Linked DNA regions of Homo sapiens. The protein of the gene in region 3 purifies or fractionates together with the protein of the main gene of each other region. This does not show direct contact. Each region holds a gene or a part of one and is shown on either strand. Other genes may lie near its edges.

What was found.
Region 1: the proteins of MAMDC4 (region 3) and POMT2 purify together in Homo sapiens (affinity purification with mass spectrometry; one large-scale study listed by BioGRID and IntAct). This does not show direct contact.
Region 2: the proteins of MAMDC4 (region 3) and ANGEL2 purify together in Homo sapiens (affinity purification with mass spectrometry; one large-scale study listed by BioGRID and IntAct). This does not show direct contact.
Region 4: the proteins of MAMDC4 (region 3) and TTC28 purify together in Homo sapiens (affinity purification with mass spectrometry; one large-scale study listed by BioGRID and IntAct). This does not show direct contact.

What each region holds. Positions count from the first base shown.
Region 1 is NC_000014.9:77,282,884-77,286,383, reverse strand, and holds part of POMT2 (protein O-mannosyl-transferase 2), read left to right. Parts: intron 1-751; coding exon 752-903; intron 904-1,342; coding exon 1,343-1,434; intron 1,435-2,510; coding exon 2,511-2,587; intron 2,588-3,500. UniProt on the Homo sapiens protein: Transfers mannosyl residues to the hydroxyl group of serine or threonine residues. Coexpression of both POMT1 and POMT2 is necessary for enzyme activity, expression of either POMT1 or POMT2 alone is insufficient.
Region 2 is NC_000001.11:213,002,368-213,005,867, reverse strand, and holds part of ANGEL2 (protein angel homolog 2), read left to right. Parts: intron 1-413; coding exon 414-835; intron 836-3,500.
Region 3 is NC_000009.12:136,855,346-136,858,322, reverse strand, and holds part of MAMDC4 (apical endosomal glycoprotein precursor), read right to left. Parts: intron 2,893-2,977; coding exon 2,704-2,892; intron 2,592-2,703; coding exon 2,475-2,591; intron 2,306-2,474; coding exon 2,174-2,305; intron 1,614-2,173; coding exon 1,497-1,613; intron 1,417-1,496; coding exon 1,282-1,416; intron 1,159-1,281; coding exon 1,025-1,158; intron 957-1,024; coding exon 737-956; intron 665-736; coding exon 527-664; intron 345-526; coding exon 226-344; intron 138-225; coding exon 47-137; intron 1-46. UniProt on the Homo sapiens protein: Probably involved in the sorting and selective transport of receptors and ligands across polarized epithelia.
Region 4 is NC_000022.11:28,001,341-28,004,840, forward strand, and holds part of TTC28 (tetratricopeptide repeat protein 28), read right to left. Parts: intron 1,340-3,500; exon of another isoform or gene 214-1,339; coding exon 34-213; exon of another isoform or gene 1-33. UniProt on the Homo sapiens protein: During mitosis, may be involved in the condensation of spindle midzone microtubules, leading to the formation of midbody.

The sequences.
Region 1 (3,500 bases), on a different chromosome or scaffold from region 3:
GATCCCAAATTCTCATTAGCTTTATTTTTAAGTATCATTTCCCTGTTCTGCAGAGGGATATTATCCATAGCTTTTGTATTTTACTACCTCAAGGAGATGCAGCTAATAAATAAAAGCTCTATGAGTACTTATGGCTTTGGGAGTAACTGAAGACAAAAACTACTAGTGGAAAACTGTATACAGATTCTGGCCTTCAGGTGGATTTCCCAGCCCTCTTTCTGTTTGCTCATTCCACATTGTGCTAGGTCAAGACTGTGAACATTCTAATCTTCTTTGTGGGCATCTTCTGAGAAGAATTAGACATACATGTCTTAATTTCCAAAGTGCAATAGCCAGGCCAGACCTTTCTGGCTTAGATGAGTGAATACCTAGATAGCCAAGGTAATGGATGCAAATGGCCCAGATCTGTTTCTGTTGGCTCAGAGTGATGTCTTGAGTTTGGTTGAAGGGCAAAGACAGGTATTTAGAACTTGAACTCTAGTTCTATGAAGTGAAGAGTTGGACTCCTGGACTTCTGGTTCCAGGAGTCATACTACTGTTTTTTGGTTGTAATAGTGAGTTTTGGGACAATGCCAATCACCTGGGATATTTCTTTGGCCTTCTTGTAACCTTGCCCATCTCTATCATTGAGCCTAATTTGGTCTTTGACCTTCATAACATGGTGGCATCTGGGTGGCCATTTCCCTTTCTGACACGTTTTCTCTAAAGTCCCCTCACTTTCTTTGTATTTTTTTCTTGGCTTTTATGGCAGAATGGAACAGGGGACTCAAATGATTTCTGGCGGATTGAGGTCGTAAACAGGAAATTTGGAAACCGGATCAAAGTGCTGAGAAGTCGAATTCGCTTCATCCATTTGGTCACAGGTTGTGTCCTGGGCTCCTCGGGAAAGGTTCTGCCCAAGTGGTAAGTCTCTAGGGTTTTGCTGTCCCAATCGAGGGTCCTGATTTTCCTTTCACTCTACAAGGAGTATGCCAGAAGCTTTTGTTTTCCTGTGTTCACCTGCTGTCTGCTTGTTCTTAGTGGCAGATGGAGGGAGAGTAGATATCAGGTGTATTATGGAGCACAGAACTCCGGGGGAGCTTCGGTGTTTTATGTGTTCTGATAGTTCAACATTTTCACATCTGGCTGGTGCTAATAACTCTCTGGGTCTATGTCTTTTTCTAAAATGGGAATACTGTATGCTAGACTATCCTAGGATAGTTGTCCAACATGGAACATGAAGAAATAATGGCCACCATGTGGAAAAGAGAAGGAGCCTGTGGATTTAAGAGCAGAAGACAGTGTCACTCTCTGGTGGATTTCACGTCTTCTGAGAGACATCTGTGACTTCTGCTTTTCACAGGGGCTGGGAGCAGTTGGAAGTTACTTGCACCCCATACCTGAAAGAAACCCTCAACTCCATCTGGAATGTGGAGGACCATATCAATCCCAAGTGTGAGTGAGGTCACTTTCTGGGCTGGCTCTGGAGGGAAGCATTTATAAGAAACCCTTATCTTAGAAAAGTAAGCGTTTGTAAACTGTGCTATCCCTTCAACTTGCTGCTGTTTGTTCCTTGTTAACACTCTCTTTCTATGAGTTGTCTGTACCTACATAGCATACTCCTTTTCCTTCTCATCCACTCCCTCCGTAAACTCCTCTCCCTAAAGTGGCCAGTGGCCATCTGCAGATCCATCTGTCTCGTCTTCCTCTGGGCTCCTCTCTCCCCTGCACCATGGGCACCTCCCCAGCCTCCAGGCTTGGAGCAAGCTGCTACTTTCCCTTTATGCCTCAGTGTAGAGTCGCTCCCCCGCCCCCCCACATATCCAGCCAATGCTTTTATAGAAAGTGACTGCCACAGCCCTGATCTGTGCCCCACATCTCTACACCCAAGCTCCAATTTGATATTTCCACTGCGTTGTCAGCTTCAACTCAATAAGTATTTGGATTCATCATCTGTTTTCCTAAACTACCCACCTCAAGCTTATGTGTGCCTTCATTTTGTTCTTCTTCCCACCTAATCTAGCCAAACCCACTAATCAACTAATTCAACAACTCTTTATCAAGTATGCCAGGAACCACATGGGGCCCTGTGGACATATTGGCGAGGAGACAGACTTGGTCCCCATCCCGACAGCAGCTGCTCCAGGCGTCCAGAATGATTTATTCCTCATTCCCAGGCCCTTCAAAGGGCCACAGTGACTCGGGGGCTGTGCAGCTGTCCCTTATGCCTAATAGGAGAGCAGCATTTGAGCCAGTACCACAGTGAAAAGCAATGGTGCTGGGAGCTGTTGGAGCACCAAGCAGGTGAAACCTTGTTGTCTATTTCCTTTGCATTTCTTAGAATGCCTGATGAGTTCTTCATACAGCTAAGTAAATGATCAAGAATTGGGCCAAGCTTTCTTCTGTCTCCTCAACAGTTGTGAACTTGTCAGCAAGGCTGCATTTGGATTCTGGTGGGAATGTGGACACCATGGACAGACTGAGGAAAGAATGTATGACAAAGGCTTTTCTCCTGCATTTTTTTCCCCTAGTGCCAAACATCAGCCTGGATGTGCTACAGCCCAGTTTTCCTGAGATCTTGCTGGAATCCCACATGGTCATGATCCGGGTATGTGTCCCCTTCTCATTTCATGGCGTCTCTAAGAGCTTTTGGGCAGCCATGAATTTGGATCACAAGTCAATGCCATGCTACAGATCCATTCCCCCTTGTGGAGGAATTTGAAAGCATCTTTACTACGGTTTTCTGTGATCCTCAAAGGCATTTCCCTCACCACAGAATGAGGATGGTGGTGATGATGGTGATACCAGTGACTGCTTGTACAGCTCATGTGCCAGGCACTACGCTAAGCACTATACTCATCTGATACTTATTACAATCATATGGAGGTTGCCATCATTCCCAGTTACAGGAGAGGGAACTGACATACAAAGAGGTCAGGGAACTTGCCCAGGGTCACACAGCTAAGTGTAAGAGGTAGATCCAGCCCTCAGAGCCAGGCTGGTAGGCTTTTAGAGTTACTGCTAGTTACCACTACACTCCTTCACCTCTAAGTGATTTGTGAATCTGCCCAAGTGGCAGAGCCCCTGAAAATCATAGTGCTCTTGGTTGAAGATCATGAGATACTGATAGTTCATTCCATCATATGAAATCAGGATCAGTTAGGATGGATAGCTAATTTGAGTGTGTTGTTTATATGCAGCATGAAATCCCAGCCACGAGCCCACTCATATTCCTGGACAGAAACTGCTTAGGCAGGGCATGATTGATTCTTTTTAAGGTTTTCTAAGACATTGTTTGCACTCTCTATCATTAGTAGCTGACAGCAGTTGTAGCATCAAAGGTTTAAGAAAAATTCAGAGAAGAAATCTTTAAATTGAGAAAATTCTACTCACTAGCTTAAATTTTCCCCTGCTGTAGTCCTGCTGTTTAGTGGAAGACCCCCTTATTCTGGCTTATGGAAAACCTGTGTTCTGCAGGAATAATGTTTAAGAATCACTATCTCAAGCCAGATATGTGATTA
Region 2 (3,500 bases), on a different chromosome or scaffold from region 3:
TAGCAAGGGAAAGGCCCTGAGGTTGGAGTGTGTTAAGGCAAGTGAGGAGGCCAGTGAGATTGGAATGAAGTGAGGGGGAAGGAGTTACAGGCAAAAAGATCAGGAATATAGGGTGGAGAGAGTGAGAGAATAGATTATTATAAAGCTTTACTATTGCCATGACTAAGTTTTACTAGGATGGCAACGGGAGACTGATAATACACATTAGCATATCAAGGGCTGAAGTCTGCGCATAAAGAGGCCTGTTAGACCCAGTGTCAAACGTTTTTTATTCCAATGTTTATTGACATCCTACATTACTAATGTTTTGCAGAATACAGTTTGGTAAACATTGTTCAGAAGTATCAGGTGAGCTGTGTTTTGATAAATATATAAAAGCAGTCATTTGTTTTAAATTCATTTGTTTCTTGTAGGTTATCACTGTGAATATAAGATGCGGACAGGAAGGAAACCTGATGGCTGTGCTATTTGCTTCAAACATTCCAAATTTTCACTCTTGTCAGTGAACCCAGTGGAATTCTTCCGCCCTGATATTTCTCTGTTGGACAGAGACAATGTTGGATTAGTTTTACTCTTACAGCCCAAAATTCCATATGCTGCCTGCCCTGCAATCTGCGTAGCAAATACGCATCTGTTGTATAATCCAAGGCGAGGTGATATTAAGCTGACGCAATTGGCAATGCTACTGGCAGAGATTTCCAGTGTTGCCCACCAGAAAGATGGCAGCTTCTGCCCTATTGTTATGTGTGGTGACTTTAATTCTGTTCCTGGTTCTCCACTATATAGTTTCATAAAGGAAGGAAAATTGAATTATGAAGGACTTCCCATAGGAAAGGTAAGTGCTTTCTTCATTGTTATTAGGGAGTGGACATAGTTGCTCTGCTCATGATAATGTGAAGATAGTCATTACATGGCTATTTGAAAACCTTGGATGATCCAGTACCCTCACTTTATCAAACTATGATTTTCCATGACTTTTTTTTTTTTTTTTTTTTTTTTTTTGAGACAGTCTCACTCTGTCGCCCAGGCTGGAGTGCAGTGTCATGATCTCAGCTCACTGCAAGCTCCACCTCCCGGGTTCAAGTGATTCTCCTGCCTCAGCCTCCCGAGTGGCTGGGGTTACAGGTGTGTGCCACCACACCTGGCTAATTTTTGTATTTTTAGTAGAGACGGGGTTTCAGCTTGTTGACCAGGCTGGTCTCGAACTCCTTACGTCGTGATCCACCTGCTTCGGCCTCCCAAAGTGCTGGGATTACAGGCGTGAGCCACTGTGCCCAGCTTCTTCTAGTAAGTAATTATTTTCACTTGGTTGATTTATATCTTTTTCATCTATCTGTGGCAACATACTGCTTGGAGGAATTAACAGGCAGCAAAAAAAAAAAAAGTATTGACAGACATGGATACTTCACCGATAAGTAACACAAGGTGGCAGGATAGAATTTTGAATGCTGGTTGTGGGCAAAATAGTAATTTAACATTTATTATACAAGTTTCCGTTGTAGAATAATAAATATTTTCTTTAGCTTAGCACAATTTATCTCGTGATTATTTTTATTGTGCTTTCCTCTCCTTACTTTAGATCATTTCATCTTCAGTATATTTACCAAAATAAGCTCTCCAACACTGGAGTTTTGAGTAATAGTTTAAAATTATTTATTTTTTTTTTTGAGATGGAGTCTTGCTCTTTCGCCAGGCTGGAGTGCAATGGTGGGATCTCGGCTCACTGCATCCTCTGTCTCCCAGGTTCAAGCAATTCTGCCTCAGCCTCCCGAGTAGCTGGGACTACAGGCTTGCACCACCAAGCCCGGCTAATTTTTTGTATTTTTAGTAGAGATGGGGTTTCACAGTGTTAGCCAGGATGGTCTCTAACTCCCAACCTTAGGTGACCTGCAGGTTCACCTCGGCCTCCCAAAGTGCTGGGATTACAGGCGTGAGCCACCATGCCCAGCCAATAAGTTTAAAATTTTGTAAGAGTTAATCTCTCTTAGTACAGGTATACTTCATTTTATTGTGCTTTGCTTTATCGAGCTTCAAACATACTGCATTTTACAAAATTGAAGTTTCATAGCAACTCTACCTTAAGCAGCTCTATCATTGCCATTTTTCCAACAGCATGTGCTCAATTCCTGTCTCTGTCACCTTTTGGTAACTCTTGCATTACTCAAGCATTTTCATTATTATTAACATCTGTTATGTTGATCCAAGATTAGTGATCTTCGATATTACTATTGTAATGGTTTTGGGGTGTTATGAACTGTACCCATATAAAATGAGAACTTAATCGATAAATGTGTTCTGACTGCTCCACTAATCATCTCTCTCCCCCTACTTGGGCCTCTATATTCCCTGAAGCACAACCATATTGAAACTAGGCCAAGTAATAGCCCTGCAGCGCTCTCTAAGTGTTCAAGTAGAAGGAAGACTCACATGTCTCACTTTGAATCAAAAGCTAGAAATGATTAAGCTTAGCAAGGAAGGCATTTTGAAAGCTGAGAGAGGCCAAAAGCTAGGCCTCTTGCACCAAACAGCAAAGTTGTGAATGCAAGGAAAAGTTCTTGAAGGAAGTTAGAAGTGCTACTCCAGTGTATGAAGGCATAATAAGAAAGCAAAACAGCCTTATTGCTAATATGGAGAAAGCTTGAGTGGTCTGGATAGAAGATCAAACCAGCCACAGGATTCCCTTGAGTCAAAGCCTAATCCAGAGGAATGCATTAAGTCTCTTCAATTTTTTGAAGGCTGAGAGATGAGGAAGCTGCAGAAGAGAAGTTGGAAGTTAACAGAGGTTAATTTATGAGGTTTAAAGAATGAAGCCATCTCCATAACATAAAAGTACAGGTAAAGCAGCAAGTGCTGCTGATGTAGAAGCTGCAGTAGGTTATCCAGAAGATCTAGCTAAGATCATTGATGAAGGTGGCTACACTAAATAATAGATTTTTTTTTTTTTTTTTTTGAGACAGGATCTCGCGCTGTTGCCCAGGCTGGACTGCAGTGACACGATCTCGGTTCACTGCTACCTCTGCCTCCTGGGTTCCAGCGATTCTGCTTCAGCTTCCCAAGTAGGTGGGATTACAGGTGCATGCCTCCACGCCGGGCTAATTTTTTAATATTTTTTGGTAGAGGTGGCGTTTCACCATGTTGCCCAGGCTGGTCTCGAACTCCTGGGCTTGAGCAATCCTCCTGCCTCAGCCCCTCAAAGTGTTGGGATTACAGGCATGAGCCACCGCACCTGGCCAACAATTTTTAATGTGGATGAAACCACTTTATATTGCAAGAAGATGCCATCTAGGACTTCATAACTAGAAAGAAGAAGTCAGTGCCTGGTTTCAAAGGACAGGCTGACTCTTTTGTTAGGAGCTAATATAGCTTGTTACTTTAAGTTAAAGTCAGCATTCATTGACCATTCTGAAAATCCTAGGGCACTTAAAAATTATGCTAAATCCACTCTACCTGTGCTATGTCAGTGGAAAAACAAAGCTTGGGGATGACAGTGCATCTGTTTA
Region 3 (2,977 bases):
AGGCAGGCACCCCAGAGCAGGGCCGAGGCCACGGCAGGGCTCCCACCTGGCTGAGGGCAGGGCCCGTCCTGGAGGAGCAGATCATCCAGAGCCACGTAGGAGTGTGCCACGCCTGCGGCCACTGCCTCAAACACCACCTGGCGGGTGCAGGGCAGGGCAGCCTCAGCGGGTCCAGGCAGCCCTCGGGGGAGGGGGAGGGGGAGGGGCACCCCACCCTGCACTCACCCTCCAGGCTCGCTCGGCCTGCACGTCCATGCTGCCCAGGCGCCAGGCAAGCCCGCCGTGGGCACTGAGGCTGAGCACCTGGTGCCTCCCGCGCTCCTCCAGGTAGACCCGCAGGGTGCCTGCCAGCAGGGGCGGCCCAGGTCAGCAGTGTGGGGAGAGCACCTGCAGGCCCTGGTCTGAGCTCCCAGGCTCCCAGCCTGGCGGGCGCAAGAGGCTCCCCAGTGGCCTCAGCACAAGGCTGGTGGGGACACCAGGCCAAGCTTCCCTGAGCCCACTGGGGCCCCCTCCCAAAGCCCCTCACCTGGGCTGCGGAGGCTCCCGTGGTACCAGAAGGTCAGACAAGCAGGCTGGGCCAGGGGCCTGTGCTCCTTGGAGGTCAGGGAGGCCGTCTGGCCCCGGGGTAGTGCGTCTGGGCTTGTGTCCACCACCATGTAGTGCCCTGGAGGTGCCAGCATCAGCCTGCCAGCCCCTGGCCAGCCCCTCAATCCCTGCCCCTGCCAGGCCCCCATACCTTGGGCTGTCTCAGTGGTATGGTCTGTTGGGGGGCCCCAGGCAGCATGGCCCGAGGCATTGGCCTGCCGCCTCCAGAGACCTTGGCCTCCAGGGGAGAAGCCGCAGTCTGAGTCCTCAAAGGAGCAGTAATTAGGGGCCCAGCAGGGGCCCGGCCGCACGGCCACATCGTCCAGCGCCATGGTGCCGTGGTATCCGTCCCGGAGGCCCTCGAACAGCAGCTGGGGGTGGAGGGTGTCAGCTGGCCAGGGGCCCTGCCCTGTCCTCCCACCCGGGTGCCAGGCCTCACCTGGTACTGGGCATGGGAGCCAGGCTGGTGGGAAAGGGTGGCCCAGGCCTCGTGCCAGCGGTTGCCCTGGGTGCCTGACCGCGACCACAGGTGTGTCTCCTCCCCTTCCCGTCTCATGGCTAGGCGCAGAGTCCCTGCAGGGAGGGGACCAGTCCATAACTGACCTCTCTCCTGTGCCTTGATGGGTGTCAGAGCGGGGGACTCTGAACCCCCGGGGGCCTCCCCACAGGCTCTGCCCTGTTTCCAGGTCCACTCACCAATCTGGGGCCCATGGAGGTGGTACCAGAAGCTGAGACACTCCGTGGGTGCTGCTGGCACCTGGGGCCTGGAGAGCAGGTGGGCACTGTGGCCCCAGGCCAGGGGGTCTGTGGGGTCCAGGAGCACAAAGTGGCCTGCAGGGGGCATGGGGCTGTGCTGCAGAGATGCCCCACTCTCGTCTGAAAGCCACCCCCGGTCTGAGCGCCCATCCTACCTTGGCCTGTGGTGTGGTCGTGGTCAGGGCCGCGGCTCTCCACCCAGCGCCAGTGTGTGTCTGAGAGGTGGCCTGGGTACCAGCTGCATGTGTCCCGCTCAAAGTTACAGGAGACCTCTGGGGGTGGGGCCAGGTGGCGTCACACACCTTCTCCCCTCCCCCTCCAGAGCCCTGAGAAGGTGGAAGCTCCGGGGTCCCTGGAGGAGTGTAAGGGGAGCACCCAGGTGGGAGTGAGGATGGGCAGCAGGAACCTCTGTCTCTCTCGGTGGTCACTGTGGGGCTACAGTCCCTCAGGGTCACGTTGTCCACCCCAGCTCCCTGCTGGTCAGGGCCATCCAAGTCCACCAAACCGACAAACTCCAGCTTCATGGGGTAGGGGGATGAGGAGGATGGTTAAGTCAGGGCCCGCTCCAGCGGAGCTCCCACTCTGGGCTGCCCTCCTCACCCGGAAGGGCCGGCGGCGGGCCCCTAGAAGGACCTTGTCCACCTTCCAGATGCCTGCACTGCTGCTCAGGGCCTGCCATGCCAGCTCCCGGGAGCCGTTGTCCACCACAACTAGTGCCAGGAAGCCTGGCCAGCGGGGCGGGGGGCACTGTGGGTCACCCGGCCCCAGACCCCTCCCACTGTGCAGGGAGCACCCAGGGGCTGGCCAGGGAACTTGCGGAGTGTGGCGGTACCTCGGGGCTGGCTCTGTAAATAATAAGCCAGGTGGAGTTCACAGCTGGGGCCAGAAGGGCCAAGGAGGGGTGTGAGGACCCGGGCCTCAGCGCCTAGCTGCCCCCAGGCCCGCTGCAGAGACAGGAAGTGCCCTAGGGGAAGAGCATGGTGCTCAGAGCCTCATCCCTTCCAGGGCCCCACTCTGTCCCTCAGGGATCCCCAGTCCAGAGACCCTCTGTAGTGCAGAGGCAGAGCAGAGACCCCTCTGAGGACGCTGCTCACACCCGGGCGGGGGCTTGAGCCTTGGGCCTTGGGCCTCACCAGCAGCAGCTGCACTGGACCCCTGGCTCTCCTGGGCTGAGACACGCCGCCACTGCAGCCGCCCCACGCTGGCGTCCTCCCAGCCCCCAGCCTCGGGGGACTCAAAGTCTGTGGTGCCTGGAACAGCAGCCGGCACTGAATGGCAGAGTCCTCAGAGTCCTCAGCCTGCCCCGGCGCCTACCCCCTTGGCTCCGCAGCAGGAGGTCTGCAGGAGGTTGAGCCCCTTTACCACAGGCCTGCTCGTCCTCGCCCCCTGCGCACTGCTCCTCGAAGTCACACAGTTGTTCCGGGGGCACACACAGGTCCCCGCAGGCAAGATGCCCCTGCTTGCAGGAATCCTGGAGCCGCGAGCTGGGCGGCAGGGGCTGGGGGGCTGGGGCCCGGGGCCCAGGAGGCAGCGGCTGCAGGGTGGACACCTCTGTGGGGGCAGAACTGGTGTCAGGAGGCAGGGATGGGGAGTGCTGTGCCTCTCCAGGGCAAGGCAGGGTAGGGCAGAGTCAGCA
Region 4 (3,500 bases), on a different chromosome or scaffold from region 3:
CCCCCGGCCCCCCACCATGTGTGTGAGCCTTACCTTGGACTGCACGCTGAGGGAGCGGATGGAAGGGACAGCAAGGAGGCCGAAGCGCTCGTAGAGGTACTCATTGGAGGAGCTTCCCTTCAGGAGGGCGAAAGGAATGAGGTAGAGCTCCCCCTCCAGAACCAGGATGAGCTGCCGGTGCCGGCCCACGGGGCCGCTGGAGTGCATCAGGCCCTATGGAGCAAGCACGGAGAGGCTGACATGGGTGGCCCAGCAGGCAGGGGTTTCAGGCACCAGGACAACCCTGAGCCCTAGCCTGGATGACACAAGCACGAGCAGGTGAGGCCTGTGGGGGTGTGGGGCGCCATGGGGCATGGGCCGAGTTGCAGCCCTGCAGGAGCGGCACCAACTGGCATGCTCGCTTGTGGACTGGCAAGGGCTGGCCTGGCAGCATCCATCTGCCTCACAGTCCTGAGAAGGTTAGAGGACAGTTTCTTGAAGTTCACAAGAACCTGAAGTGGGTTGGAGACCGGTCTGTACCGCACAGGCACCCTGAGAAGGGGTGGGAATGGCCCCTCTCAAAACAAGATCTGTTTTCCATTTCAATGGACAAGAGGCTAGAAAATCACAGTGAGGACGGGAGGTCTGGGGGCTGGCATGACAGCCCCTGTAGAAGGGGATGGGCTGGGTTCTAGGATCTTCCGTGACCTCCTCTGAGAAAGAGTGGCCCCTTGGCTCTGGGCTTGGGAGGTGCCGTCCCCACTTGTTCCCTCTGGGGATGTCAGGGGACCCAATGCATGGATGACTCCCATCCCTCTTGAAAGGCCGAGCATGAGGACTCGAGGCAGGGTGTGCACAGGGCCACAGCGGACACAGCCTCATTCCTGTTCATTGCAGAACAAGGCTAAGGGCGCGGGCATCTTAATGAGAGCAGCAGGCAACAATCCTGGAAGCTGGGTCCACACAGACTGCGGTGAACAAAGAGGTGGCGTGGAAGCTGCTGCTGCAGCCCAGAGCCTGCCAAGAAGGTCCCAGGTCCACAGGGCCTGCGCAACACTGGGTGCCAGGGGTGGGGCTGGCCTGCCCCCCAACCCCATCTGCTGAGGAGTGGCTGACAAGCGGACACCCACCAGGGTGCCACTCGCTTGTGCCTGGGGAAGCAAATGTGCTCGCTTGACCCGTCTGATGTGCTGCCGTGGGCACTTGACTGAGAGTGGCAGAGCACTAGGCTAACCCAAAGTGACACATGCCTGGCGGGATGTTCAGTCTCTGTAAACCCATATGGTTTTTTTTTTTCTTTCCTTTAAAAAAAATTTCTAGCTCCATCTAGCGAAAGCAGAAATAAAAAGTATTAGGCCAATTTGTTTTTCATTTGTTTGCTGTAAGAGCTACAGCATGGGCCAGGCACCAGTGGCTCACACCTGTAATCCCAGCACTTTGGGAGCCCAAGGCGGGAGGATTATCTGAGGTCAGGAGTGCAACATGGTGAAACTGCATCTCTACTAAAAATCCAAAATAACCGGGTGTGGTGGCATGCACCTGTAGTCCCAACTACTCAGGAGGCTGAGGCAGGAGAATCGCTTGAACCCAGGAGGTGAAGATTGTAGTGGGCCAAGATTATACCAGTGTACTCCAGCCTGGGGGACAGAGCGAGACTGTGTCTCAAAAACAACAACAAAAAAAGAGCTACAGTATTTCCCAAGAGGAGGTAAATTAATCACTGTTCAATTGTGCAACCTAGGCAGGAAGAAGTAGGGGTGTGTCACAGTGACCCCGACACTGTCTATGGATGAGCTCTGGGTTAGCACAGGGAGGAGAAAGAGTTGTAGGGCACCTGGGCCCCATGGCCTGCCATGGGCCACACCTGAGCTCCCTGGCCGGCTCCATAGGTAAAGGTGGCTCAGGGGGCTGCTCTGGAGGGCAGTGCCACCACACCGTGGAGGTGTGCCAGTGAACCTCGAACCAGCCGCAGTGGCACAGCTGATGCTGCCCTGACCCTGCTGACAGGGTCAGCAGCTGTGACAGTGATGACCACCTGCTGCTCAGTGGGAACTGTGCTGCCTGAGAATGGGTAGTGTGGGGCTTGAGCCACCTGCCATGTGCAAAACTGGACCCACTTCCACTGTTCCAGAGTCGCAGGGCTTTGCTGTGACAAGATGCCAGCCCCAGCCCCAGCCCCAGGCCTGCAGGTCCTCCCTGGGCTCCTGCTGCCTAAGCCCAAACCACAGTAAGTTTCTGTCAGATATCATCCCACAGGCTACTGCCTTCACCAGGACACACGCCACTCATAGACAAGTCCCTGGTCATGACAGCACCTAACTGTGTGAACCGGAGGGAAGCTTGGCAAGCTGAAAAATGGAGAAGTGAGGCTGGAATCCACGCAGAGCAAACATTCACTGGCAGCCCATCTTCGTAGAACTCTGCTAACTCTGCCCACGAAACCTCATCTGCGGCACAAGCCTAATGATCAGAGAATGCATGTCCTTGAAGGCAGCTTGTCTGTCTGCTCCAACACTCCACCAGGGGTGGGGGGCATCTCCTGTGGCCCTATTGTCAGAAGTCTCCCAAGCTGGGCCTCGACTTTCCCATCAGCCACTGAGTGGTGTCCGTCATGTGCCTACTGGGGACCGTAGGGAAGTCAGATAAATTTAGGATATGGTCCTTGCTTGCAGACTTATGATGATGTACTTAGAAAACTAAAATGCACACAAGAGGCCATTGCTGAGTGAAACTCAGTATTGTCAAATGTAACACCTTCATGGCAGCATGGCAGCCCCAGAACGGGGAAAGCCTACCCAGGCTGACGCTGGGCCCACCCAGGAGGGTCCGTGAGGGTTGGGGAAGGCCTGGGCAGATGCTGTTGCCAGGTGAGCACAAGGCTAAAGAGGGACATGGGAGCCAGACTGTGGGGGCGCTGAAGATCAGGCAAGAAAGTGTGGTTCTTGTTGGCTGTCAGGACCCGCCATGCCTTCTCAAGCTGAGCCCTGCAAAGCATTGAGAGGCAGCCTGCCTGCCTGCGGGAGAGGGGGCTGTACCCAAGAGTAATTCAGACCAGGGCATGCCCACCAAGAGAAGAGACAAGGAGACTTGCTGGGACTCAGTGAGAGTGACCTTAGCAGGTGAGGAGAAGTCTGAAGTCCAGGCTGGGAGATAGGGAGGCTGTTCTCTGAACCTCATATCCCAATTTGGAGGTCTGGGTCCTCCCTGCATCATGCCTAGGAGCTGGTACCAAGCTTGGCTCATGCATACAACCCTGGGTGAAGGTCCCCAAATGGGACCCCTGTCCAAACTCTGTGAAATGAGGCAGGTGACAGTCGCAGCTGTTCTCTGAAATGTGTGGGCTTGTGGGGAGACGGGTAGAACAGCAGGCTGACAGCTGCCGTTCAAAGGGGGAAACTGATTGGACATGTTAGAGATAATGCCCAGGAAACTTGTCAGCTCTGACTCTGGTGTATGTGTGCTGTCCTTGCACTGAAAGATTAGTTATAATCCAACGTGAACTTGAAAAGGGGAAAGCAAGC